Linked DNA regions of Homo sapiens. The protein of the gene in region 1 purifies or fractionates together with the protein of each later gene. This does not show direct contact. Each region holds a gene or a part of one and is shown in the gene's direction. Other genes may lie near its edges.

Region 1 (4,277 bases):
ATGATAGGAGTGAAACCCTGTTTAAAAAAAAAAAAAAGAGAGAGAGAAATCTTAGGATAAATGGGTTAATCAATTTAAAAGCTCTTCAGGTAGGATTTTGTTTTACTGGAACATGTGGGATTTTGGACAGTGAAGGAAGATAAGGGCCACCCTGAGACCCTGACCCCTGGGGCCCACGAGCTTCAGAGAGCCTCGCTTGGACTGACTGCCCACCATGCCCTACATAAACCACATTAGGAGCTGAACTTGAAAAAATTCGAGCAAGAAACGCTAAAAGCCTTTTAGATTTAGTGAAAAAAAAGAGACTGAACTAGAATTATAAAGTCTGTGTGTAACAAACTGCCCGGTTCTGACCAAGTTTTTTCATATAATTGAGCAAATCATGCATCTGAGCCTTGGTTTCTGAACCAGTGAAATACAATAAAAAATATTACTCTCATCACTGCAAAGTGGTTATTTTTCCAAGTGAGTCTTTTGGTGGCTTTTTAATTGAAAGCCCCCTCTGCTTACAGAATATTCAGAGAGCTTAAAGAAAGGCAGACTAGAATATAATTTATGTTCTTAGAGTATCAAATTGGTATAAAGATTCAATCGGTTTCTTTTTTAACAGAAAACCTATTGCCTCAAACTGGCCATTCCACTGTGCATAGGCATGGGCATATGCCACTGTGCCCATGGCAGGTTCATGAGGCTCCTTGTAGTGTAGGAAGAGGCCAGGGTAGGAGAAAACACCTTCTTTTTAGTGTTATCTATGTTGTTTGCTTCCCCTCTCCCTAGAATTTAATAAGCCACTATAGCACAATGAAAATCTTTGTACTGTGTCTTATTCTTTATATTTCTAAAATTTCTCATGAGGTTTTAAAACACCATAAGTTTCTAAGCCTGAAAAAGTAATTGTAATTTTTATACATTTTTTAAGATGAGATTTTCTGCTTGTTCATGATTTAAGAAAATAAATTCTCATTCATAATTCTGGTAGAACTGTACTCAACAAATCTGAATGTTGCCCACAGAGTTACCGCCAAGTTCGACTGAATGAACTCTTACAGGAGCACTCCAGAGCTGCTAATCTCATTGTCCTGTAAGTATCATTGCAAGCATTGAAGAACATTAGAAATAAATCTTAGGGTTAATGGGTTAATCCATTTAAAAGCTTGGGACTCTTCAGGTGGGAATTTTGTTTTGTTTTTGTGTTTTTTTTGGGGGGGGGAACACGTGGGATTCTTAGACAGTGAAGGAAGGTAAGTGCCACTCTGAGACCTTGACCCCTCAGGCCCATGAGCATCAGAGAGCCTCACTTGGACTTGCTGTCCACCATGCCTTATGAAGAGGCGTGTGCCCATCTAGTAAGACCATGCTCCAGGAATCTGAGACCCTGGATTTCTCTGCCTAACAGCCACAAGTCAGCGACCACAGCTCACGGGCCCCTTCCCTGAGTGGATGTCCCTGAGCCACTGTGCCCATGGCAGGTTCATGAGGCTCCCTGTACTGTAGGAAGAGGCCAGGGTAGGAGAAAAAGGCAGAGCCATTTCCATTTTCACTCTTTATGCTCTAGCCTTACAAATGTTAGGGTTGCGTCTACTGAAAATGTATGTTTGTTTACTTAAAGGTTGGTATTTAAACAAGAAAATCTCTAATGACTTCACATTTATACCTCATGAATTGACTCCTATGTATAAAGATAAATATATCTTCACGTAGTGTAGACTGGACAACTATCCATCAAAGACATTGTAGAATGGTCTGCTGGATTGGGTGGTAGGGTTCCAATAGATGGTTTCTGAGGTTTTTCCCAAATATAAGATATTTAAATTATTTGAAAAATCATTTACACCAAAAACGGGGGTAGGTATTAGCTGATCAAATTCCCTATTTAAAGGAAAGTGAAAATGTACATTTTTGTTTTGTCTTTACAATACCTAAGCCTGTTTTTCTGGTTTATAGATAGTATTACCTGAAAAATACATCAGTTTGCTATCTACAGTAAAAATAATTTTGGTGCTTTCATCTTGGGGTGGCGTAAAAATTAAGGCTGCCGGCCGGGCGCGGTGGCTCACGCCTGCAATCCCAGCACTTTGGGAGGCCGAGGCGGGTGGATCATGAGGTCAGGAGATCGAGACCATCCTGGCTAACAAGGTGAAACCCCGTCTCTACTAAAAATACAAAAAATTAGCCGGGCGCGGTGGCGGGCGCCTGTAGTCCCAGCTACTCGGGAGGCTGAGGCAGGAGAATGGCGTGAACCCGGGAAGCGGAGCTTGCAGTGAGCCGAGATTGTGCCACTGCAGTCCGCAGTCCGGCCTGGGCGACAGAGCGAGACTCCGTCTCAAAAAAAAAAAAAAAAAAAAAAAATTAAGGCTGCCAGTTATTAAATAGCTCAGAAATACTAGTGCCGTTACTACCTATAGTAATTTTCACTTTCATTTTTAAATTTTTCCTTCATGTCATTAGGAGCCTTCCCGTGGCAAGAAAGGGATCCATATCGGATTTGTTGTATATGGCTTGGTTGGAAATCCTCACAAAGAACCTCCCACCTGTCTTACTAGTTAGAGGAAATCACAAAAATGTCTTGACATTTTACTCTTAAAACATGAAAGATTGGAATACATTTTAACTTAATGTAATGCATAATTAAGAAACATGTTCCAGTACTTTATGTTGTAAATCTGATCTATGGATATGCAAACCTCTGGAGAGGATCCTACCAGATTCTACATACATTGCATAATTTTTATCAGTTAATGCGAGCTTTTTTTTCTCTTCTCAGCTTAAGGGGTTGTCAAAGCCAATGTTATCCCTAGAAAAACATTTTTGTCACTGCTGTTGATAAACAAGAAAATCAAGGAAACTCATGTTGGCTTATGCTCATGAAAACCACCAATGTGATTGTAAACTTCTCCAGACAAACTTAACCTTTTGTTTCTTAATTTTTTGTTTTGAGTGTTTGCTTCTCAGCCCTGGTATAGGTCTCAGCCCCACAGCAGGATCTCAATAAATGCTTATTGACAGGCTGGCATAGTAACCACAGGTGGTTATCAAAGGAAAAGACCAATAGGCTGGGGAACATAATTATGCTTGGCCCCCTCAGAGGCTTATACCTCCAAAGCAGATTTAAAAATCAGTAACTCAAAACTTTAAGAAGTAGTTGAGTCTACAAAATATTCAAAGCAGTTACCTAAATAAGGTTATTTAATGTAACAGATTATATACTTAAAGTGATCTGAGCAATCATTGATAACATATGGCTTAAATTTGCTGCTGCCTGAAAAGTATATTAACTAGATTAGAAGACACCATATACTCCAATAAAATGAAATATATTCTATTCTCAATATATAAACTTTAATTGTACTCCCTATCAAATATTTTGAAATTTCCATCACGGCATTACTTTGCATATTTTTTTCTAATTAAATGGTTAGTACAGATGAAATCTTTATAGATGACTACTTGAAAACTAAGTGCTACAAATTTTCAAACCATTATTAAGAAATATATCCTGAATCATATATTTAGTTACTTTCTATAGTGATTGTATGGATTTAAAAGAATAATTAAAATGTGAAGTTGAAAAACTTGTAAAATTTGGAATATACAGATACTGATTTTTTTCATTTTTGTTAGTATACCTATAATACATAATCACATTGACAAACCAATGAAAATATTGATTTTCTGATGAATGGCTTGATTTTTCTCCTTGACATGTTTTGACTGTTCATTCTAACTGAAAACATATATGGGAAAATATGAACCTGAAATAAAAGCACTCAAATTCAATTGCTTTGGCCTAGGTCATGTTTTTACTTTCAGTCACTAAAATTGTGGTGCAATGGTGTATCAGATGTGAGCCTGAAGATTTCAGTCAGTGGCCTCATCTGCAGCTGCTTAAAGCTAGGATTCAAGATCAGGACTTCCTAACCCAGCCTCTCTGCTCAGAAGGATGACCAGAGAATAAGGGAGACCATCAGCAAAGCTTAGGCAGCTGGATATTCCTATTCCAAATCCAGGGCCACTGTGCTTAACTCTGCCCTTGATAAAACCCTTTCTCTTGAGCACTATGGACCTGAAATCCAAATGCCTAAACTCAGCTTCATGTGGGCCTGACACTTCTCTGAAATACTTGAGGGTCTCTGGGAAAGGTGAGAAGTAATATGACTTCTTTAACAGGACATTCTGGCTCTTGTTTCTTTCCCGGCTGCTGCAAGTTGGGCTCCTTGGGAAACAGACTCTGAGACAAAGTTTAGCATGATCCCCTGGGGATCAACACCTGAGGGAAG
Region 2 (3,500 bases), on another chromosome or scaffold:
TCTCATTATTTCCCAGTAGTTTTAACAAGGAATTTTTGAATACAGTTTTCAGAAAATAGTTTAAATTGGTGCTACAGGTGAGTATCTTTGTAAAAACACTGGTTTGCTAAGGTTCTGACATAGGCTGCCCATAATGTTATCTTTGTAATTTCAATATAATCAGGTATCAGTAGACTTCTCAAGCATGTGGAATAAATGAATACAACACACTTTTTTTTTTTTTTAAAAGAGATAGGGTTTTGTTCTCTTTCCCAGGCTGGAGTGCAGTAGTGCTGTCGTAGCTCACCTCAACCTTGAACTTCTGGGCACCAGTGATCCTCCTGCTTCAGCCTCCCAAGTAGCTAGGACTGCAGGCACATGCGACCACACCCAGTGAATTTTGCTATTGTTTGTAGAGACTGGGTTTCACTGTGTGGCCCAAGCTGTTATCAAACACCTGGCCTCAAGCAATCCTCCCACTCTGGCCTCCCAACGTGACAACACTCTTAAATAATCTTTGTTTGTTTCTTTTTTTTTTCTTCTTTTGAAACGGAGTCTCACTCTGTCGCCCAGGCTGGAGTGTGGCGGCACGATATCAGCTCACTGCATCCTCCCAGGCTGGAGTGCAGTGGCGTGATCTCGGCTCACTGCAACCTCCGCCTTCCGGGTTTAAGAGGTTCTCCTGCCTCAGCTTCCCGAGTAGCTGGGACTACAGGCGCGCACCACCACACCCAGATAATTTTTTTTTTTTTATTTTTAGTAGAGACGGGTTTTCACTATGTTGGCCAGGCTGGTCTCGAACTCCTGACCTCAGGTAATCCACCTGCCTCGGCCTCCCAAAATGATAGGATTACAAGAGAAAGCCACCGCGCCCGGCCTAAATAATCTTTCTTAGCAAGACTATACTTCAGGGATCGTTCCTATAGTTTGTTAAATAATGTTTCTTGGAGATAGAACTCAAATATTTAAGAAGTGCTCATTTAAGGTACGTAAAGCAGAATTTGGCATGACATTTTGGTGCTTTGTATGTAGTTACCTTGTTTTACTGAGTTTACATAGTTAGATCCCACTGAAAAAAAATTCAAGGCTCAGGACTTAATGCCCGTGAGTATGCCTGGAAAAACACCATGTATACATCATAGCTGTTGCTTTTTTTTTTTTTTTTAGCATAAACTGGTTACCTAGTCATCCCAACCACCCTCACCCCTCTGTTTTGTGTTGATCCTGAGATCATTATTCTTTAGAAACTTTGTAACAATATTGGATAGACGTTTAAGCTTACATTGTAACCATTCACGTTGACCCTAACAGCCTTGTTTCTCTTCATGTGCAGACTGACCAAATATGGAAGTGTGCAAGTCTTGAACACATTAGTTTATACAATGTGGCCTGAAAGTTTCCCTCCTCTTTCCAAATCAACCATAATATTCTGAGGTACTCAGTGAGAATTTTTTGAAGATTGTTTTCTATCAGACTTTTCCCCCTAAATCCCTTTTTCTGATCACTATACAGTGAAATAAAGCCCTAAACCTACTTTTAAGCTCCTGCCTGACATTAAATAGTATGTATGTATTATCTTGGTTGTAAAGTATGAGAAATATATCTTCTTAATTGTGTACCTCTCCAAGAATTAATGCATAGTTGTTATGTATTTCCTGTTAAGGTTGCATCAGCATTTGTGTTATAAACTACTACTCCTTGGGTTCTGTAAGTCTTTGTGGAAATAAATTTTTCTCTGTACCTAAATCTGGCATTTCTGAAGGTACATTAGCAAGTGAGTTTCTGTGGTAACTTTAACATAATGTTACTAAGTCAAACTTTAACAACAATTTGACTGTTTTAAAACTTTCTCCCTTTTTCCCTTATTTATGCATTTTGGTAACTAACCAACAACCTATGGTTTATAATTTTGTTTTCCATTTTCTGAGGATGATCTTTTATCAGTTAAGGAAATGATATGCAGAATCCTTTGGGAATATATTTTATTTTTTAAGACTACTAAAGTGCAGTAGTGAGAACGGGGAAAAGAGTAGAACAAGGAGTTTGTTCTGTAACTGACTGAACAATCGAGATAACTCACTGTCTTTGGACCAGCTTTGGGAGTATATTTTAACTATCATGAAGGATAATACGAGATAGCATACTGGAAGGCACAGAAAACACGTATCTTCTGCCAAACATTCATGGTTTGCCTACATGCATTCCCCTGAAAATCAAACAGGTCATAGAAAAGACAAATTATATTTCTGCATTTATCTTAGACTTTGATCATCTGTTGAATGATTTGCCTGCTGAGTTTTAAATTCATGTAGATTAAAGAGAAGTGAATAATACATTTTAGATCTGAATGTAAACAGATGCATATTCTAAGTGGAATAGATTCATTTTCTTTATTGTAGATGAGAAGGAACTATATTGACTAATTTCCTAAAAAGAGGAAAAGTCTTTGACTAACCCTGCGTTGCTTAAAAATACTCATATTTTTACATTTATTAAATGCTAATGTAAATTATACTGTAGAAATCTGAACAGTTTTTAAAATCTGTACTAGCAAGTCAGGAATATAATCTGACCTTGTGAATGAGTAGTACATTAACATTAAGCTGACTTTCCCTGTGTTCCCAGGGATAGCTTCTATTGTGGACGTGGAATCCAAATAACAATTTAAATATTTAGTTTCACAGATATTGTGTTGAAATGGCATTAAGCCAGCATATGTAGAGTTCTGGAAAAAATTAAAGTGTGTTTCCTGAAATATCCATGGGAACATGAGAAAACCATTGGCAAGATTTTTTTCAGGTGTCAGCATTATCACACTCATAATTAACAGAGTTAAATGAACTCTGTTTTATGCACATTTCATCCCTACTTGTTACCTCTTGTACCTTTCATTAGAAGTATGAAGTATCAAGATATAGTGGGGAGAGTATGAACTTTGGGGTGAGAAAGACATGGATATCCCAAGTCTCTGAGAAGGAGTGATTAAGTAGCTTATCCTCAGAAACTCCATTTTTAAACATGGAGCTACTTACATCTACCTCATGGAACTGTAATGGAAAACACCTGATATCCCCCCTAAAGACCCTATAAAGTTATAATTATTTTGAAACTTACTTTTATTGAAGGATAAATGTGGCATACATACATTGAAATATTATTCAGCCTTAGGGAAATTGTGACACATGCTACAATATGAATAAACCTTGAAGACTTATACTAAATGAAATAAACCAGTTATGAAATGATAAATATTGTGTAATTCCACTGCTTATATGATACACCTAGAGTAGTCAATTTCTTAGAGATGGAAAGTAGAATAGTGGTTTTTGGAGGAGGAAGAGAATAGGGAATTAGTGTTAATGGGCACAGAGTTAAGAAAGGAAATGTTCCAAGGATAGATGATGGTGATGGTTGCATGACAATGTAAATGTATTTAATGACACAAAATTGTACACTTCCGTGGCTAAGATGGTAATGTTTGTGTTATTACTTAATCACAATGCAAAAAGATTACAACTTAT
Region 3 (3,500 bases), on another chromosome or scaffold:
GCTGCAATCTCATTATAATGATCTCATTATAATATAATTATCTCATTATAATAATCTCACCATGGGGCGGTGAGGAGTTGTTCCTTATGGATGAGCAGAGAAAGTGATTTCCTGAGATGGAACCTACTCCTGGTGAAGATCCTGTAAACAATGTTGATATGACAACAAAGGATTTAGAATATTACATAAACTTGGTTGATAAAACAGCAGCAGGGTTTGAGGCCAGTTTTGACTCCAATTTTGAAAGAAGTTCTACTGTGGGTCAGATGCCATCAAACAGCATTTCACGCTTCAGAGAAAATCTTTCAGGAAAGGAGACATCAATCAGTGTGGCAAACTTCATTGTCATCTCATTTTAAGAAATTGCCACAGCCACCCCAACCTTACACAACCACCACCCTGATCAGTCAGCACCCATCAACATCACGACATGCATGACTTGCTGAAAGGCTGAAATGACTGTTAGCATTTTTTACCAATAAAGTTATTTTTTGTTCCTTGGTTGGTTTGTCACCCCACCTGGAGAGTGCAGCAGCAGGATCATAGCTCATCACAGCCTTGAACTCCTGGGCTCAAGCAATCCTGCTGCCTCAGTCTCCCGACTAGCTGAGACTGCGGGCATGTGCCACCATGTCCAGCTATTTTTATAGAGACAGGGTCTTGCTGTGTTTCCCAGGCTGGTCTCAAACTCCTGGGCTCAAGTGATCCTCCTGTCTCAGCCTCCCAAAAGGCTAGATGACAAGCATGAGCCACTGCGCCCAGCCTATTTTCTAATTAAGGTATGTACATTGTTTTGTTTGTTTTTTTTTTTTAGACATAATGCTATTACATAATACACTGTATATAGTGTAAATATAACTTTTATATGCACTGGAAAACCAGAAAATTTGTGTGACTCCTTTATAGTGATACTTGCTATGTTGTGATTTGGAAACAAACCCACAATATCTGAGGTATGCCTGTTACCAGGGTAGGAGACATTTTTACTACAAGAAAGGTTTTGTGTCAAATACCATTCAAATTTGTTTTACAGCATATTTTTATTTAAGACTTATGAACAGTAATACCTTGTGTAATTATTGCTTTCTATTTTTATATAAAAATAACTACCTCATTACTTGTTTATAGCTGATAAGATAATCCCTTCTTTCATTAAAGTTTGCATTAATTCTGTTAATATTTTTACCTAAATTTGTACTGGTTTGTGGTCTAAACCAATATGGCAATTTTTTCGACCACCTCTATAGAATGGTCATTTGCCAGACTTTGAAAACATTGCCAAAGAACAGCCCATAGTCCTGAATTACACACTTTGCCTGTAATGTGTAGATTAACTGTTTTCCCACAGGTCTGTCTTATACTTGAAATGTAGGTGAACACTGAGTCCTGCACCTGTTTCTAATTAGCCTGAATTAGTTGCACGTATTTAGAATACCATGTGTGATTTAATGTCTTACTGTAATTTCTGAAATTTTTATTTTAAAATAATAAATTTTAACATGGAATTATATGGAAATCCTTTAACCAAAAGCAGATTAACCTCGCCTTTTTATCTTGAATGTGAAAGCACATTTTTACAATGTTAAATTTTTTAAGTGAGTAAAATTTGTAATTTGCATCAGGTCATTTTACAGATAAAATATAAAATGTACTATTGGCTAGATATTATATGTTGTTCAAATCTGTAATTTTAGCAAATATGTATTAATGTTTTGAATTGTTAAAAACCTCAACCTTTTCAAACAAAATGATTTTCCAAGGTAATGTCTTGTTTAGGGCTTAGATTAAATTTAATCCCCGCAATCCTTACTGTATTATGTAGGTCTCTTATTTTATTCTTTCAGAGTTTACAGTAGCTGTCAGAATTGACTAAACCTACTTAACCTGTGCTGCATGTAATAGAAGAGCTTAAATCTCAGTCACTCTTACTATTTGTCTTCTTTATTTCTCTCATGCACACAAACTCTTACGTGAGGTTTGGCTGCTATTTCTTGTGCCGTCACTTTTTACAACTTTATGGCCATATTTATCTTGCAGTTTGAGGCTGCTTCTTTTTCAAGTATGGGCGTAGGAGAGTTTTTTTAAAAAGCTATTGTTGGTTTGACATTTGAAATGTTTCTTGTGGAAAAAAAATTTTTAATTTTTTAAAAATGTCATTTATGTAGAAGATATAGAAAAACATCACACAGAAAATGAGAAAGACAATATGAAAATTGCATGACTTTTTAAAATTCTGATCTCCACAAAAAGTTTTTAACTAAAATATGCATGAACCTTTAATAAATAATTCTAAGTTGTTTGCATTTTATGTATTTTTAGATGCTGCTGTTAATTCTGGAGAACTGTGGTTTGTAAATTTTTACTCCCCAGGCTGTTCACACTGCCATGATTTAGCTCCCACAGTATGTATTTTTCACATCCTCATTACTAGTTTTATTTCTAATTGATCTGCAATTTATATGTTAGAATTTTTTTTTCTATGAATAGTAATCAAAAATAATTATCAAATACTTTAAATGTCTGGTTTAAAAATATATAGCTTGGAGTGTGTTCAAGGGAAGAAAAGTGGTCTTATCAGAGAAATATGTTTTCTTTTTCTGTCATAGTGGAGAGACTTTGCTAAAGAAGTGGATGGGTTACTTCGAATTGGAGCTGTTAACTGTGGTGATGATAGAATGCTTTGCCGAATGAAAGGAGTCAACAGCTATCCCAGCCTCTTCATTTTTCGGTCTGGAATGGTAAGGGATAAAGTTAGCATTTTTTAAATTTGTGAAACATTATGACAAGTTAAATAGTAGAGAAAATAACAGTATGTAGAATTTGCAGAACATTTTAAGTCTTGTTTTACAAGGTGCCATCTCACTAGTCTTCTGTAATAATAAACATTTTGGATTATGAATTTTTTTTTTTGAGATGGAGTCTCACTCTGTTGCCCAGGCTGGAGTGCAAGGGTGCAGTCTCGGCTCACTGCAACCTCTGCCTCCTGGGCTCAAGCAGTTCTCCTGCCTCAGCCTCCCGAGTAGCTGGGACTACAGGCACCCGCTCCCATGTCTGGCTAATTTTTGTATTTTTAGTAGAGACGGGGTTTCGCCATGTTGGCCAGGCTGGTCTTGAACTCCTGACCTTAGGTGATCTGCCCACCTCAGCCTCCCACAGTGCTGGGATTACAGGCGTGAGCCACAGTGCCTGGCAAAAAAAACACCATTGACTTTGCTATATTTTAAAATTAAATGTTTGCCAATTTCAGTTTCTGTCTTAAGGAACATAATTTATACAATATGTATATTGTATTTGGTAGTTTACAAAGTATTTTACAAGTGTTGTCTCATTGAATGTAAAGCTCTGATATCTTTTTTCTTAGTTTCCAGTGAGGAACCTGAACGATTATAAATGGTATTATTAAAATGTGTTCCATAGAATCTGTACTGTCAAGATTATCAGGATATCATTTGGAAATACATTCTGCTATTGAGAAATAGAGCTTTGCTGCATTATTCAAG
Region 4 (3,500 bases), on another chromosome or scaffold:
GTCCCTGGTTCTGTGACAACTTTTATTTATGGAGACTTCCTTTGTGACATACAGACCCATAGCAAGCCTTCCTTGTGGTGGTTTTAATTGCACAAAACAACGAGACATCCTAGAAAGCTTGCCATTGTTAAAAGCAAGGAGGGGAACCAATAGAAGCAGTAAAAGATTTCAGTGATGTGTACCTGGGTAGCTGATTTCAAAGTTTTTCCTGATTTAGAACTGTGACAAATCTTAATATGAGAAAATACTTCCGAAATTATAGAACTTTATGTTTTGAAAAGTGTCTGTCATCAAACTTTTGTTTAATTTCTATTTTGTGCATGACACCTTGTTAAAATTATTCTGCTGAGAGCATCAGAGACGTCCTTTTGTTAAATGTAGTGGCATTTTTCTGTCCCCATTTTATTTCCCCTTTCTGCCACACTTAATGCTTTGACTCCTTCCGAAAATCCACTCTTCCCTGGCTTCAGGATATCTCACTTTTATGGTTTTCCCTCTACTTCTCTAGCTGTTCCTTTTTGGTTTTTATGTTTTTTCCTTCAGTAATTCCTTCTGTGAATGCTGAGTCCTCAGGATCCTGACTTCAGCACTTACTCTCCTTACTGTACCCACTTAGCCTAAGCCAATCTCACTGCTTTTATTGTTCATCATTTATGTGATGGCAACCCTCAATCTTATATCTCTGGCACAGATCTCTCTCCTAATTCTAGATCCATATATCCAGCTGCTTATGAAAGACTTCATATGAATGTTTTAAAGGCAGTCTAAGTGTAAGATGTTTTAAAACATAAGCCACCTCTGCTTGACCAATATTGCTCCTAATCCTGTGTTCCCAATCTAAGTGAATTTAAAGATCTGAGTATTTTTCTTTTAAAAATTTTTTTTTTAATTTTTGCGGGTAAATAGTAGGTGTATATATTTATGGAATACATAAGATGTTTTGATACAGGCATGCAATATGTAATAATTATATCATGTAAAATGGGGGTATCCATCCCCTCAAGCATTTATCCTTTGGGTTACAAATAATCCAATTATATTTTAAAACATACATTTAAATTATTATTGACTATAAGTCAGCCTGTCGTGCCACCAAATACTAGGTCTTATTCATTCTATTTTCTTTGTACCCATTAGCTATTCCCACCTCCCCCCCAACCCCCCTAGTACCCTTCCTAGCCTCTGGCAACCACCCTTCTACTCTATCTCCATGGACTTAATTGTTTTGATTCTTACATCCCACATATAAGTGAGAAATCTGAATATTTTTCTTAACATTTACCTATTTCCATTCCCTGTGTTTAACCAATTATAAATTTTTATATTTTCTTCTTCCTTACTGTATTTCAAAATAATCTCCTATTTATCTGTCACTATCACTACCTGTTTTTAAAATTTTTATTTTAGATTCAGGTGGTACACGTGCAAGTTTATAACTAGGCTATATTGTCTGATGCTGAGGTTTGGGCTTCTAGTGATTGCATCATGAATATAGTGAACATAGTACTTAAAAGTATGTTTTTCAGCCCTTGTCCCCTTCCTTCCCTCCCACATTTTGGATTCTTCAGTCTGTTGTTCCCATCTATACCTGCATGTACCCAAGACTTAGCTCCCACTTATAAGTGAGAACATGTAGCATTTGGTTTTGCATTTCTGTGTTCATTTGCTTAGGATAATGGTCTCCAACTACGTTCATGTTGCTGCAAAGGATATGATTTTGTTCTTTTTAATGACTGCATAGTACTCCACAGTATATATGTACCACATTTTCTTTATCCAATCCACCATTAATGGGCACCTAGGTTGATTACATGTCTTTGCTGTTATGAATAGTCCTGCAGTGAACATGCAAGTGTATGTATATTTTTGGCATTTTCCTTTCAGTATGTACCTAATAGTGGAATTGCTGGGTTGAATAATAGTTCTATTTGCAGTTTTTTGAGAAATCTCCAAACTGCTTTCCACAATGGCTGAACTAATTTGCATTTCCACCAACAGTGTATAAGCATTCCCTTTTCTCCACAGCCTCAACAACTTCTGTAATTATTTGACTTTTTAATGTTTGTTGGCCGCTTGTATGTCTTCTTTTGTGAAGTGTCTGTTCATGCTCTTTGCCCACTTTTTAATGAAGTTATTTATTTTTTCTTGTTGATTTAAGTTTCTTGTGGATTCTGGATATTAGTCCTGTTGGATGCATAGTTTGTGTTTTCTCCCAGTCCATAGGTTGTCTGTTTACTCTGTTAGTTTCTTTTGCTGTGCAAAAGCTCTTTAGTTTAATTAGGTCTTAATTGTTGATTTTTATTTGTGTTGCAATTGCTTTTGAGGACTTGGTCATAAAGCCTTTGCCAAGGCCAGTGTCCAGAAGAGTGTTTCCTAGGTTAGGTTTTCTCCTGGGATTTTTATAGTTTTAGGTCTTGCATTTAAGTCTTTAATCCATCTTAAGTTAATTTTTGTGTATGGTGGTAGGTAGTGGTCCAGTTTCAGTCTTCTGCATATGATTAGCCAGTTTTCCTAGCACCATCTATTGAATAGGGAGTCCTTTCCCCATTGCTTATTTTCATTGACTTTGTTGAATATCAGTTGGTTTTAGGTATGCTCCTTTATTTCTGGGTTTTCTGTTCAGTTCCATTGGCCGATGTGTCTATTTTTATATCAATACCATGCTGTTTTGGTTACTGTAGCCGTGTAGTACAGTTTGAAGTAAGATAATGTGATGCCTCCAGCTTTGTTCTTTTTGCTTAAGATTGCTTTGGCTATTTGGGCTCATTTTTGGTTTTCTATGAATTTGAGAATAGTTTTTTCTAATTTTGTAAAAAATAACATTGGTAATTTGATAGGAATAGCATTGAATCTTTAGATTGTTTTGAACAGTATGGACATCTAACAATGTTGATTTTTCTAATCCATGAGCATGGAATGTTTTTCCATTTGTATTTTCCATGATTTCTTTCAGCAGTGTTTTGTAATGCTCCTTGTACAGATCTTTTACTTCCTTGGTTAGATGTATTCCTATGTGTTTTATTTTTTGTGCTTGTGGTTATTGTAAATAGGATTGCATTCTTGATTTGGCTGTCAGCTTGAGGGTTGAAGAGCTGTTCCAAGCTCTTAAGGATAATGCTTTGGTGCATAGAAATGCTACTGATTTTCATACATTGATTTTGTATCCTGTAACTTTACTGAATTCATTTATCAAATATAAGAGTTTTGGCTGGGTGTGGTGGCTCATGCCTGTAATCCCAGCACTTTGGGAGGCCAACGTGGGCAGATCACGAGGTCAGGAGTTTGAGACCAGCCTGGCCAACAAGGTGAAACCCTGTCTCTACTAAAAATACAAAAATTAGCTGGGCATGGTGGCGGGCACCTGTAATCCCAGCTCCTCAGGAGACTGAGGCAGGAGATTCACTTGAACCCAGGAGGCAGAGGTTGCAGTGAACCAAGATCATGCCATTGCATTCCAGCCTGGGCGACAAGAGCAAGACTCCGTCTCAAAAAAAAAAAAA
Region 5 (3,500 bases), on another chromosome or scaffold:
GACTTGTCCAGGGTCATGTAAAGAGTCAGTGGTAGAATGGGATCTGGAACAGGTCCATGTCCGTCACTGTCCATGTAAAGATTGCTGTCCATATACCTTTTTACTGATCCATGCTGTAGCTAGCATATGGAGGTTTACCTTCTGTATAATTGGTGACCGATTTGACTATGTAGCACATGACAAAGAATGTAAGCTGTTATTACTCAGTTACATGGAAAGGTACAAAGGATAGCTTAGTATCTTTCTTTAGGATATTCTTGTTTGATTCATCCAGTTGCCTCTCCTGCCATTTTAAAATGGTAACAGCCATTGGTATTTGTACCTCTCACTACCCTGGTTAGTCTCTTCATTCCAACCAGAGATGGGTCTGATGTGGCCACCATCCTTATCTCTGTGTTCAGTCCCCAGTCCTGACTTCAGTTTTCATGCTGATGAGTACCTAGAAGTCTACGTTTCTGCTTCTGAGCACCCTAACCACTTCTGGATCCAGATCGTTGGCTCCCGCAGCCTGCAATTGGATAAGCTTGTCAATGAGATGACCCAGCACTATGAGAATAGTGTGGTGAGTTGCCATAGGGACAGGGCTGGGGTTTAATGAAAAGAAGGCATATCTTTTTCATTGTACTCTTCCTTTCCCTGTGGAGCAACTACTTTTCTTTCTTCCTCCTGCAATTCTGTTTATGAGCCTACCACTTTGTAACTCTCTGCCTTTCTCCTCCTCCCCACATACAGCCTGAAGACTTGACTGTGCATGTAGGAGACATTGTAGCAGCACCTTTACCTACAAATGGTTCCTGGTATCGAGCCCGGGTCCTCGGCACCTTGGAGAATGGGAACTTGGACCTCTATTTTGTTGACTTTGGAGATAATGGAGATTGCCCACTGAAGGACCTCAGGGCTCTCAGGTCAGTGCTGAGGTCAGCTCAATCCCAACTGCTGACTCAGTTCTGGCCATAGGGTGGTGAGCTGTTGGCAGTTGTCAGGGGGATTTGGAAGGGAACCTGTTTACAGAGAGCAGATGGTTATCGTCTCATGTTAGTTGGTTCTTTCTGAAAGCAGCAATGTAAGAAGATGTTTTTGGCCCCAGGATTCTAATTTTAGTTTCTTTTACTTCAGGAGTGACTTCCTAAGCCTTCCATTTCAAGCAATAGAATGTAGTCTGGCACGGATTGCTCCCTCAGGTAAATTGGTCATGCCATCTATTGAGCTTACCTCCAAATAGAATAACTTCATACAGTTCATTGGAAGGAATTCTCACATTCCCAGGCTTTTTGAATTCTGGGGACTCAGGTGCCTTTTCCTCACCAGCACTAGCAGCAGCCAGAAACTTGCCTGGCAGACCCAACCCAACCAGAGAAGACACAGGTGCCTTCCTGAGTAGAAAAGGGTAGTTCCAACTTCCCTCCAGGGTATAAGCCCCACCCCTATCAGCAGTAACCCCTACAATCTTTTGCCAGGTGACCAGTGGGAAGAGGAAGCTTTGGATGAGTTTGATAGACTCACTCATTGTGCTGACTGGAAGCCTCTGGTAGCCAAGATCTCTAGCTATGTCCAGACTGGGATCTCAACTTGGCCAAAGATCTACTTATATGATACTAGCAATGGGAAGGTAAGACTGGCATTCACTCACTGCTTGCCATATCTTCAGTATATTTATAGCCTAATTTACTTTTTCTTCCTCAGAAACCCTTATCTGATATTACTCTTACTGTAAGATCCTTCTCACCATCTCACCAAAGGAATGTCTTTAAAGTATCAGTCCTTCTGCCTTGTTTCCTCAAATTTGCCCTTGCTTACTGAGAGAACATCATTCCCTTTTCATTTTTCTTCTCAGAAACTTGATATTGGGCTAGAATTAGTACACAAAGGATACGCAATTGAGCTTCCTGAAGACATAGAAGAAAACAGAGCTGTCCCAGACATGTTGAAGGACATGGTGAGCTATTGTAGTTATATAGGGTGCTGCTTCCAGGCAAATCTAGCACATAGACACTAAGGGCTTCTAGTCCTGATACTGTGTTAGCTTTCCTAAGGACTTTGAGCTCCTCCAGTAGTTGACCAAAGGAGCATTTTGTCCCTCTTGGTAGCCAAATGCAACTGCCTTAACCAGGTCCTATGAGAAGAATGAAAGGGTGGCCTCTTTTTTCCTAAAAGCCAACATGTTCCTCCTTTTTTCCTGTTTTCATCCACTCAGGCCACAGAAACAGATGCCTCTCTCAGCACGTTGCTCACTGAGACCAAAAAGAGCTCTGGAGAGATAACACATACCCTGTCCTGCCTCAGCTTATCAGGTACAAGCAGTATTTCCTCCCTAGAGCATCTTTGGAGATTAACTTTTCTCATTCAGTCTTTCCAGAGTAGGGAGGTTAATTGAAGGCTTGGTTCCTAGTCAGGTCATTGAGTACCAAGAGGTCCATTTTTCTTTTGAGCCTCGCTGGCATTGCCTGCTAGAATAGGGCAGTGTCTAACTTTCTCCTTCTTATTTATCTTCAATAGAAGCTGCTTCCATGTCTGGTGATGATAACCTTGAAGATGACTACTTACTCTGAAGTCTGGGCTTCAGTTTGCTCAGCCATCTGCTTTGCTGTGTGAGTGCAGCTATCATCTATCTGTAGCAACAGGAAAGTAATGAGGGCGACAGTGGGGCACTTGCTTTGATTCCCTCTTTCCCATGCCCTGTCTTAATATACTTCTCTGCAGCTGCTTTCCTGCAGCTTAACTTGCTCTCAGATTGAGCACTTTCAAGCTTTTTGTGTATTTCTGTCTTTGGCAGGATTTGGCATAGGAATTGGTGCATGGAGGAGAGGAGTGTATGATAAAGGATCCATGCAGTCCTTCCTTTATTACACATATAGTCTGGCTTGCTGTGGACCAAATTAATATTCTCCTCCCATCAGACTACAAAAAAATTGGACTACCACGCTACAAGTGTGTCTCCCCCATTCCACCTCCGGATCCCTCCCCAACCCTCCAGTGTTTGAATACTGCTGTGTTACTTCCAGGCCGTTCAACGTCAGGCTCAGTCCCCTCTACCAGTCATGATTCACATTACTACTAGGCTGTATCCTTTTTGAGGCTGGGAAACAGTCAGGCTTTCGTCATTGGAAGTGATTCTGCAGACTTCTGACTCACCTTATCAGGTGACTCTGGTTAAGGAAAGCTTTTGAGTGGTGAACTCAAAGACTCCAGTTGAATCAGGAGGCAAAGGCAAAAATTAGCATAATTATATTTAAAAGCCTCAGGAAGTGGGAAGAGAATACTGCCTCCCAGCCTCAATTGCTGATATGTTATTGGAGACAGGCTTTTGAAACTGCTCCAGCTATTTCTCTGTAACCTTTAGTTAAAATATAAGTAGAAAGGAGACAGGAGGCTCAGGAAATTTTCTAAATTGCTAGTATAATATCTATATGTATACACACATATACACCCGTGGAGAGAGAGGAAGAGTATACAGTCCTGTTTGAATCATTTGGAGGATTTTTTTGCTGAATAAAGTTCTC
Region 6 (3,500 bases), on another chromosome or scaffold:
TTCTCGTTAAATTCACACTGAAAGTGCTCTTGCAAACTTGGATTTAGTGTTTTTGGTCATGGGGCCCCCATTCAATTGTTTGTTTGCCTTGGGAATATTTGCATTAAATAAAGCCCATATTTTGATGTTTCTATTAAATTTTATACATAATGGAGTCTTGTTCTGAAAAGGTGATGAAGGTGCTTATGTTTTAATTCTTCTGTTTGTCTACTTAGGTTCAATGTTGGATATCATAAAATACATTGTCAACCGAGGAGAACACAAGAATGGAGTTCTGGAAGAGGCAATAATAGCAACAATTCTTAAAGAGGTTTTGGAAGGCTTAGACTATCTACACAGAAACGGTCAGATTCACAGGTATGACCTCTGCAGAGATGTTTAAATTCAGATGTTCATATCTTAAAGAGGTTTTGGAAGGCTTAGACTGTCTACACAGAAACGGTCAGATTCACAGGTGTGACCTCTGCAGAGATGTTTAAATTCAGATGTTCATATCTTCAGCCCTAGTTTGTAAAGAATGTTAAGGAAACACATGTTGCAGGCAGGTATTGACATTACTTTAACTTAGTCTAAATAGATGGGAAAAAAGTACTTAAGAAAGAAACAAGAGAATAAATTTTGATGAATTATATTGGTATCCTTGGGATTGCTTCAGTTGCTTTCACTGAAATAAGAGTGGAATCTAAAAAGGACTACATGGACTCATTTAAAAAGATCAGTTTTGGTAACTACTCTTGAATTATACTAGTTGAACTAGACAGCATCTCTATCTTTCTAATACAAGCAAGACTATCCAAACATTGTACTATGTGAATTATTTTTGATGTGGTGGTGAGAGGGAAGGAAGAGGTACTCATCTTCTTTTGTGACATAAAATGTTAATTCTTTACATAGTCAAATCACATAGAATATGAGTGCTTGATGTTTCAAGTGAGTGAGTGCTACTTGGGCTCTTAGGAATTATTGCAAGTAAATAGCCATTTACCAGTAATACTAATAATGTAATTCTCCTACCCTGAAATTTATATTTAATTATTTCTACTATATTTTTCTTTTTCTTTTTTTTTTTGAGACAGAGTCTTGCTCTGTTGCCCAGGCTGGAGTGCAATGGTGTGATCTCAGCTCACTGCAACCTCTGCCTCCCGAGTTCAAGCAATTCTCCTGTCTCAGCCTCCCGAGTAGCTGGGATTACAGGCATGCGGCACCATGCCTGGCTAATTTTTGTATTTTTAGTAGAGATGGGGTTCACCATGTTGGCCAGGCTGGACTGACACTCTTGATCCCAGATGATCTGCCCACCTTAGCCTCCCAAAGTGCTAGGATTACAGGCGTGAGCCACTGTGGCTGGCCTATATTTTTCAATAATTAGAAAAAAGTTACTTTAGAAATCAAATTTATAAATTGCAAGTTGTCATTTTTCAAAGTACTAAGATTACACAGGTTTTATACGGTGAAGAAATATAATATCTATTATTATAATTAGTATTTATAATCAGTCTCTCACCAGAGAGAAGTTCATTTTTCAGAAAGATAATTAAGTTGGAATTGCATCCCAAATTTAAGTGGAAGTAGAGGAGCTTTACATAGACTGGGCTTTAATACTTGGTAGAATGACAGTAGTGTGAGTTTATGGGCAGTGTCTAACTCTGAAGCATAAAATAGAGAGTCTATTTACTGATGATTTAATTAAATTTGGATAATTATTTCATAGAAAATATTTCTTTCTAAAATCCTAACTCTCCCCCACGAGTAAACTATAAAGTGACAGGTGGATCCTTATACCTTTTTTTTTTTTTTTTTTTTTTTTTTGAGACCAAGTTTCACTCTTGTTGCCCAGGCTGGAGTGCAGTGGCACGGTGTTGGCTCACTGCAGCCTCCACCTCCCAGGTTCAAGTGATTCTTCTGCCTCAGCCTCCCAAGTAGCTGGGATTACAGGCACCTGCCACCATGCCCAACTAATTTTTATATTTTTAGTAGAGATGGGGTTTCACCATTTTTTCCAGGCTGGTCTCGAACTCCTGACCTCAGGTGCTCCACCCACCTTGGCCTCCCAAAGTGCTGGGATTACAGGCGTGAGCCACTGTGCCCAGCCTATCCTTATAACTTTTAAAATCTGTGCTATTATCTTAATATTTATGAAATTATTATGTCAAAGAGCTGCGTTGTATGATATGTTTTAAAATCTTCCTGAGTGAATCAATACACTATAAAGTCTGTACCCTACAATTTATTTTCTATTTTTTTTTCTAATAGGGATTTGAAAGCTGGTAATATTCTTCTGGGTGAGGATGGTTCAGTACAAATAGCAGGTAAAGCTGATAAATAGAAAAATTTTTTACTTGATTACGGAAGTGTTACAGTTTCAAGGAATGTAGAATCATTCCTGAGAAATGAATAAATGCATGTAATCTCTTTTCAGAATGATATTTACAGAATGTTTGGGTCCGAAGGATAACATATTTTCCTTATTGTTTTGATAAGTCATTAGATCATCCTGTGAAAAATGCCATTTTAGTACATAGCTTTTTGATAAAGAATAATTTTATTTTCAATTTTATTATGTTTTCTACCTTTCACATTTTATAATGGTAATACTCATATAACTTCAAGAAATGCACTTGTAAAAACATTTTTCGATAGGTTTGAAAATTTAAAACATCATACACATCAATTAAAAACTAATTTATTTCTTAAGAGGTATCTGAAAGAATTGTGAACATTAAAAATCTGGGCCTTATTTTGTTTTTAACTCTGACCCAACATGGCTATTCTTGACAAAGCTGGTAGGCTGGGGATGCAATGAATGTCTTTTACATGAACACACAATATCAGGTGAGCACCTTTCGTGTTCAAAGCCTCTATTTTGTTATTGGCCCTAGAGTAACCTTAAAGGCCTGGGATAAGATGTAGCCACGCCCATATTAACTCTTGCTTTACCCATGTCGTTGAAAGTCTGTCTCAGCAATCCTTTTAGCTTTCATGGTTTCTTGGGGGAGTGTTCTTGGCATTTTTTGGCTAGACAGTCATTCCCTCTACTGGAGTGACCCTGTCATTGCAGAGACGCGTAAGATGAGCCCACTTGTACCCATCACCTAGTTTCAATAATTATCAATCTTTGGCAATTCTTGATTCATCTGCTGCCCCCCACCCCCACCCCCCGACTCTGGTGCCTCTCCTCATCGTGGAGGCTGGATTTTGTTGTTGAGCCATCTGAGTTAGTGCTTTGTGTGTGCATATCTTGTCCTCATGAGTGGACCTTATCCCATAGGCTAAGGACAGTTTGAAAAAGTACTTCAGTTAAACAAGTAACAGCTAAGAGACATCTGTGGGCAAAGATTTCAAACTGTCCAGCCCCAAGCAGTCTAGTTGTTCAGAGTGCAGGCTCTGGTGTCAGCTGACTTGATCGAAATTCTGAGGCCACCACTTAGTAGCTGTACCACCTTGGGCAAGTTACCAAACCTTCTTAAGACTCAGTTTCCTTAAAGAAGGGTAAAAATATA
Region 7 (3,500 bases), on another chromosome or scaffold:
ATTTTATGGTGGCTTCCCTCCGCATTTCCACCTGGGGAGTTCTGCTTGACGCCCAGCACATGTGCAGTGGACAGGGCTCCTGTCCTGTCCTCGAGAGGAGGGTACAGATGAACCCAGAAAACTTGCCAGGGTTTCCTGGCGGGCGCGGGGGCAGTAGAAAGACTTTGAAATGTTGAAGTTTGTTCAGAAACCTGCTTAGGGGCGGGGAGTGGTGCCCTCTGGTCCTGCCTGCTGGCGGGGGGTGGGGGGTTTTCGCCAGCTCCGCCCCTTCGTCTCGTGGCTGTACTCACAGTGTGTGTGTGCATGTGTGTGTGTGCATATGTGTATTTGTGTGCACGCACGTCTGTGCGCATATGTGTATGTGTGTGCATGTGTGTGCATATGTGTGCATGTGTATGTGCACGCATGTGTGCATATGTGTATGTGTGCACACGTGTGTGCATGTGTGTACGCGTGTGCGCGCACATGTATGTGTGCAGGCGTGTGTGCGCATGACTGTGTGCCTGATGCATGATGTTGGCGTCGTGTGCTACTCCAGTCGTGTGTGTCTGTCTTGCTTCCCTCCTGGGTGGTAAGCACCTGTGACCTGGATGTCCTTTCTCGGGGTCCTTCTCAATGGGGCTCCATGTGACTTTTCCTGTCATCACTGTCTGGGGAGGGGCTGTCTGGACAGATGTCAGAAGTGAGCCATGGGGTTGGGGCAGGTCAGCCAGCTCTGGCCTCAGTACTCCAGTGTGATTGTAAATTAAGAGGAAATGTTAGCCAGTTGCTTTAGCAGCAAAAAAAAAATTTTTTTTTTTAAATAAAAAAGCCCTGGTGGTTCATGCCTGTAATTCCAGCACTTTGGGAGGCCGAGGTGGGAGGATTGCTTGAGCCCAGCAGTTCGAGACCAGCCTGGCCAACATGGTGAAACCCTCTCTCTAGTAAAAATACAAAAAATTAGCAGGGTGTGGTGGTGCGTGCCTGTAGTTCCAGCCACTTGGAAGGCTGAGGTGGGAGGATTGCTTAAGCCTGGGAATTGAAGGCTGCAGTGAGCTGTGATTGCACCACTGCACTCCAGCTTGGGTAATGGAGCAAGACCTTGTTTCACAAAGATGAAAAAGAAAGAAAATGTTCTGGACCGGGCACGGTGGCTCACGCCTGTAATCTCAGCACTTTGGGAGGCCGAGGCGGGCAGATCACGTGAGGTAGAGTTTGAGACCAGCCTGACCAACATGGTGAAATCCTGTCTCTACTAAAAATACAAAAATTAGCCGGGCATGGTGGTGCGCACCTGTAATCCCAGCTACTCTGGGGGCTGAGGCAGGAGAATCGCTTGAACCCGGGAGACAGAGATTGCAGTGAGCTGAAATCACGCCATTGCACTCCAGCCTGGGTGACAAGAGTGAAACTTCATCTCAAAAAAGAAAAAAAAAAAGTAAAAAGTAAACTAAAAGGTAGTACAGTCAGATATCTTCTGTTACATATGGAACCTGTAAAGGCCAAAAGTGTGCTGCATGTGTGCCAACCAGAGCACGAGGGAGCAGGCCCCATGGCACCCTGTGATGTGAGTGTGACTTGGGACAACGATCTTTATGGGCAGCAACGTGGCAATGCCTATCAAAAAAAAAATTTTTTTTTTGAGATGGAGTCTCGCTCTGTCACCCAGGCTGGAGTGCAGTGGTGCGATCTTGGCTCACTGCAAGTTCCGCCTCCCAGGTTCACGCCATTCTTCTGCCTCAGCCTCCTGAGTAGCTGGGACTACAGGTGCCTGTCACCATGCCCGGCTAATTTTTTTTTGTATTTTTAGTAGAGATGGGGTTCCACCGTGTTAGCCAGGACAGTCTCAATCTCCTGGCCTTGTGATCTGCTTGCCTCAACCTCCCAAGGTGCTGGGATTACAGGCATGAGCCACCGTGCCTGGCCAAAAATTTAAAATTTAGTTTTAATTTTAATTTTAAAAGATAGAGTCTCTCTCTGTTGCCCAGGCTGGAGAGCAGTGGCATGATCATAGCTCACTGCAGCCTCAAACTTTCTGGGCTCAAGCCATCCTCCTGCCCCAGCCTCCCATGTAGCTGGGACTACAGGCATACACCACCACACTTGGCTAATTTTTTAATTTTTTTTGTAGAGACAGGGGTCTCACTATGTTGCCCAGGCTGGTCTCAAACTCCTGGGCTCAAGTGATCCTCCCACCTCAGCCACGCAAAATGCTGGGATTACAGATATTGCTCACCACTCCCAGCCCCCTTTCAAATTTTTTAATTTATTTAATTTATTTTTTTGAAATGGAGTCTCGCTGTCACCCAGGCTAGAGTGCAGTGGTGCGATCTTGGCTCACTGCAACCTCCAGCTTCCGGGTTCAATCAGTTCTCCTGCCTCAGCCTCCTGTGTGACTGGGATTACAGGCGCCCACCACCACGTCCGGCTAATTTTTGTATTTTTAGTACAAGCATGAGCCACCACACCTGGCCCCCCTTTCAAAATTTTAAATGGACTTATGCTCTGACCCAGTAATTATCCTTTAGGATTTATTCTACAGGCATATTTACACGTATGCAAAATGGCACAGACACAAGGGTATTTGCTGTGCCACTCTTGGTACTATGACAAGGAAAATCCAGAGGAGCACTGGGTGAAGTCCTGGTGCATCATCTGATGAACTATTGTCAGCTGCTACAAAACAACGTAAAGAAAGTGGGAGCAGGGCCAGGTGCAGTGGCCCACGCCCGCCCGTAATCCCAGCACTTTGAGAGGCTGAAGCGGGCAGATCACCTGAGGTCAGGAGTTTGAGACCAGCCTGACCAACATGGCGAAACCCCGTCTCTACTAAAAATACAAAAAAATTAGCCGGGCGTGGTGGTGCATGCTTGTAATCCCAGCTACTTGGGAGGCTGAGGCAGGAGAATTGCTTGAACCCGGGAGGCAGAGGTTGCAGTGAGCCGAGATGGCGCCACTGCACTCCAGCCTGGGCAATGAGAGCGAAACTCTATCTCAGAAAAAAGAAAAAGAAAAAAAAATGTTCTAGAAGCCTTCATTCTTGGAAGGCTACAGAGTGGGTCCTGAAGCATCCCCATGCTTCCCACTGCTCTTGGGATAGGATCTGAGGTCTCAGCATGTCCATGAGACTCCGGTTCCTCCTGGGATGTGGTTCCCCCCTCAGGCTCCTGTGACTGCCACCCCTCCCACGTGCCGCTCCTGCAGCCCTCTCCACTTTGAGATGCTTGTGGGTAGCTGAGCTCTCCCTTGGTTCTGGCATTTTCCAGTGAACTGTGCTTTTGCTGTTACTGTGCAGGTGAATGACTGGCAGGAGGACTGGGTCGTGTTCTATGCCCGGCAGCGCATTCAGCCCCAGATGGACATGGTGGAGAAGGAGTCTGGGGACAGGGAGGCCCTCCAGCTTTGGTCTGCTCTGCAGGTGAGTGGGGCCCCACTGCATGCCCAGCACCTGCCACACACCCCACTTGCCTGAGGTAGGGGAGGCACCAAGGCAGGTGAGGCCACCTCTGAGTCTGATTCTG

Evidence for each region.
Region 2: the proteins of SLC12A1 (region 1) and RABGAP1 purify together in Homo sapiens (affinity purification with mass spectrometry; one large-scale study listed by BioGRID and IntAct). This does not show direct contact.
Region 3: the proteins of SLC12A1 (region 1) and DNAJC10 purify together in Homo sapiens (affinity purification with mass spectrometry; one large-scale study listed by BioGRID and IntAct). This does not show direct contact.
Region 4: the proteins of SLC12A1 (region 1) and ELOVL7 purify together in Homo sapiens (affinity purification with mass spectrometry; one large-scale study listed by BioGRID and IntAct). This does not show direct contact.
Region 5: the proteins of SLC12A1 (region 1) and TDRKH purify together in Homo sapiens (affinity purification with mass spectrometry; one large-scale study listed by BioGRID and IntAct). This does not show direct contact.
Region 6: the proteins of SLC12A1 (region 1) and STK39 purify together in Homo sapiens (affinity purification with mass spectrometry; one large-scale study listed by BioGRID and IntAct). This does not show direct contact.
Region 7: the proteins of SLC12A1 (region 1) and FN3KRP purify together in Homo sapiens (affinity purification with mass spectrometry; one large-scale study listed by BioGRID and IntAct). This does not show direct contact.

Annotation. Positions count from the first base shown.
Region 1 is NC_000015.10:48,300,302-48,304,578, forward strand, and holds the end of SLC12A1 (solute carrier family 12 member 1), read left to right. Parts: intron 1-1,013; coding exon 1,014-1,081; intron 1,082-2,448; coding exon 2,449-2,584; 3' UTR 2,585-3,777; downstream 3,778-4,277. UniProt on the Homo sapiens protein: Renal sodium, potassium and chloride ion cotransporter that mediates the transepithelial NaCl reabsorption in the thick ascending limb and plays an essential role in the urinary concentration and volume regulation. Electrically silent transporter system.
Region 2 is NC_000009.12:122,944,020-122,947,519, forward strand, and holds part of RABGAP1 (rab GTPase-activating protein 1), read left to right. Parts: intron 1-1,312; exon of another isoform or gene 1,313-1,413; intron 1,414-3,500. UniProt on the Homo sapiens protein: May act as a GTPase-activating protein of RAB6A. May play a role in microtubule nucleation by centrosome. May participate in a RAB6A-mediated pathway involved in the metaphase-anaphase transition.
Region 3 is NC_000002.12:182,726,257-182,729,756, forward strand, and holds part of DNAJC10 (dnaJ homolog subfamily C member 10 isoform 1 precursor), read left to right. Parts: intron 1-2,319; coding exon 2,320-2,402; intron 2,403-2,606; coding exon 2,607-2,738; intron 2,739-3,500. UniProt on the Homo sapiens protein: Endoplasmic reticulum disulfide reductase involved both in the correct folding of proteins and degradation of misfolded proteins.
Region 4 is NC_000005.10:60,774,770-60,778,269, reverse strand, and holds part of ELOVL7 (very long chain fatty acid elongase 7), read left to right. Parts: intron 1-3,500. UniProt on the Homo sapiens protein: Catalyzes the first and rate-limiting reaction of the four reactions that constitute the long-chain fatty acids elongation cycle.
Region 5 is NC_000001.11:151,773,501-151,777,000, reverse strand, and holds part of TDRKH (tudor and KH domain-containing protein), read left to right. Parts: intron 1-401; coding exon 402-562; intron 563-732; coding exon 733-905; intron 906-1,116; coding exon 1,117-1,181; intron 1,182-1,457; coding exon 1,458-1,609; intron 1,610-1,834; coding exon 1,835-1,936; intron 1,937-2,194; coding exon 2,195-2,291; intron 2,292-2,496; coding exon 2,497-2,549; 3' UTR 2,550-3,500. UniProt on the Homo sapiens protein: Participates in the primary piRNA biogenesis pathway and is required during spermatogenesis to repress transposable elements and prevent their mobilization, which is essential for the germline integrity.
Region 6 is NC_000002.12:168,160,596-168,164,095, reverse strand, and holds part of STK39 (STE20/SPS1-related proline-alanine-rich protein kinase), read left to right. Parts: intron 1-215; coding exon 216-357; intron 358-363; exon of another isoform or gene 364-374; coding exon of another isoform or gene 375-454; intron 455-2,253; coding exon 2,254-2,309; intron 2,310-3,500. UniProt on the Homo sapiens protein: Effector serine/threonine-protein kinase component of the WNK-SPAK/OSR1 kinase cascade, which is involved in various processes, such as ion transport, response to hypertonic stress and blood pressure.
Region 7 is NC_000017.11:82,723,206-82,726,705, forward strand, and holds part of FN3KRP (ketosamine-3-kinase), read left to right. Parts: intron 1-3,274; coding exon 3,275-3,397; intron 3,398-3,500.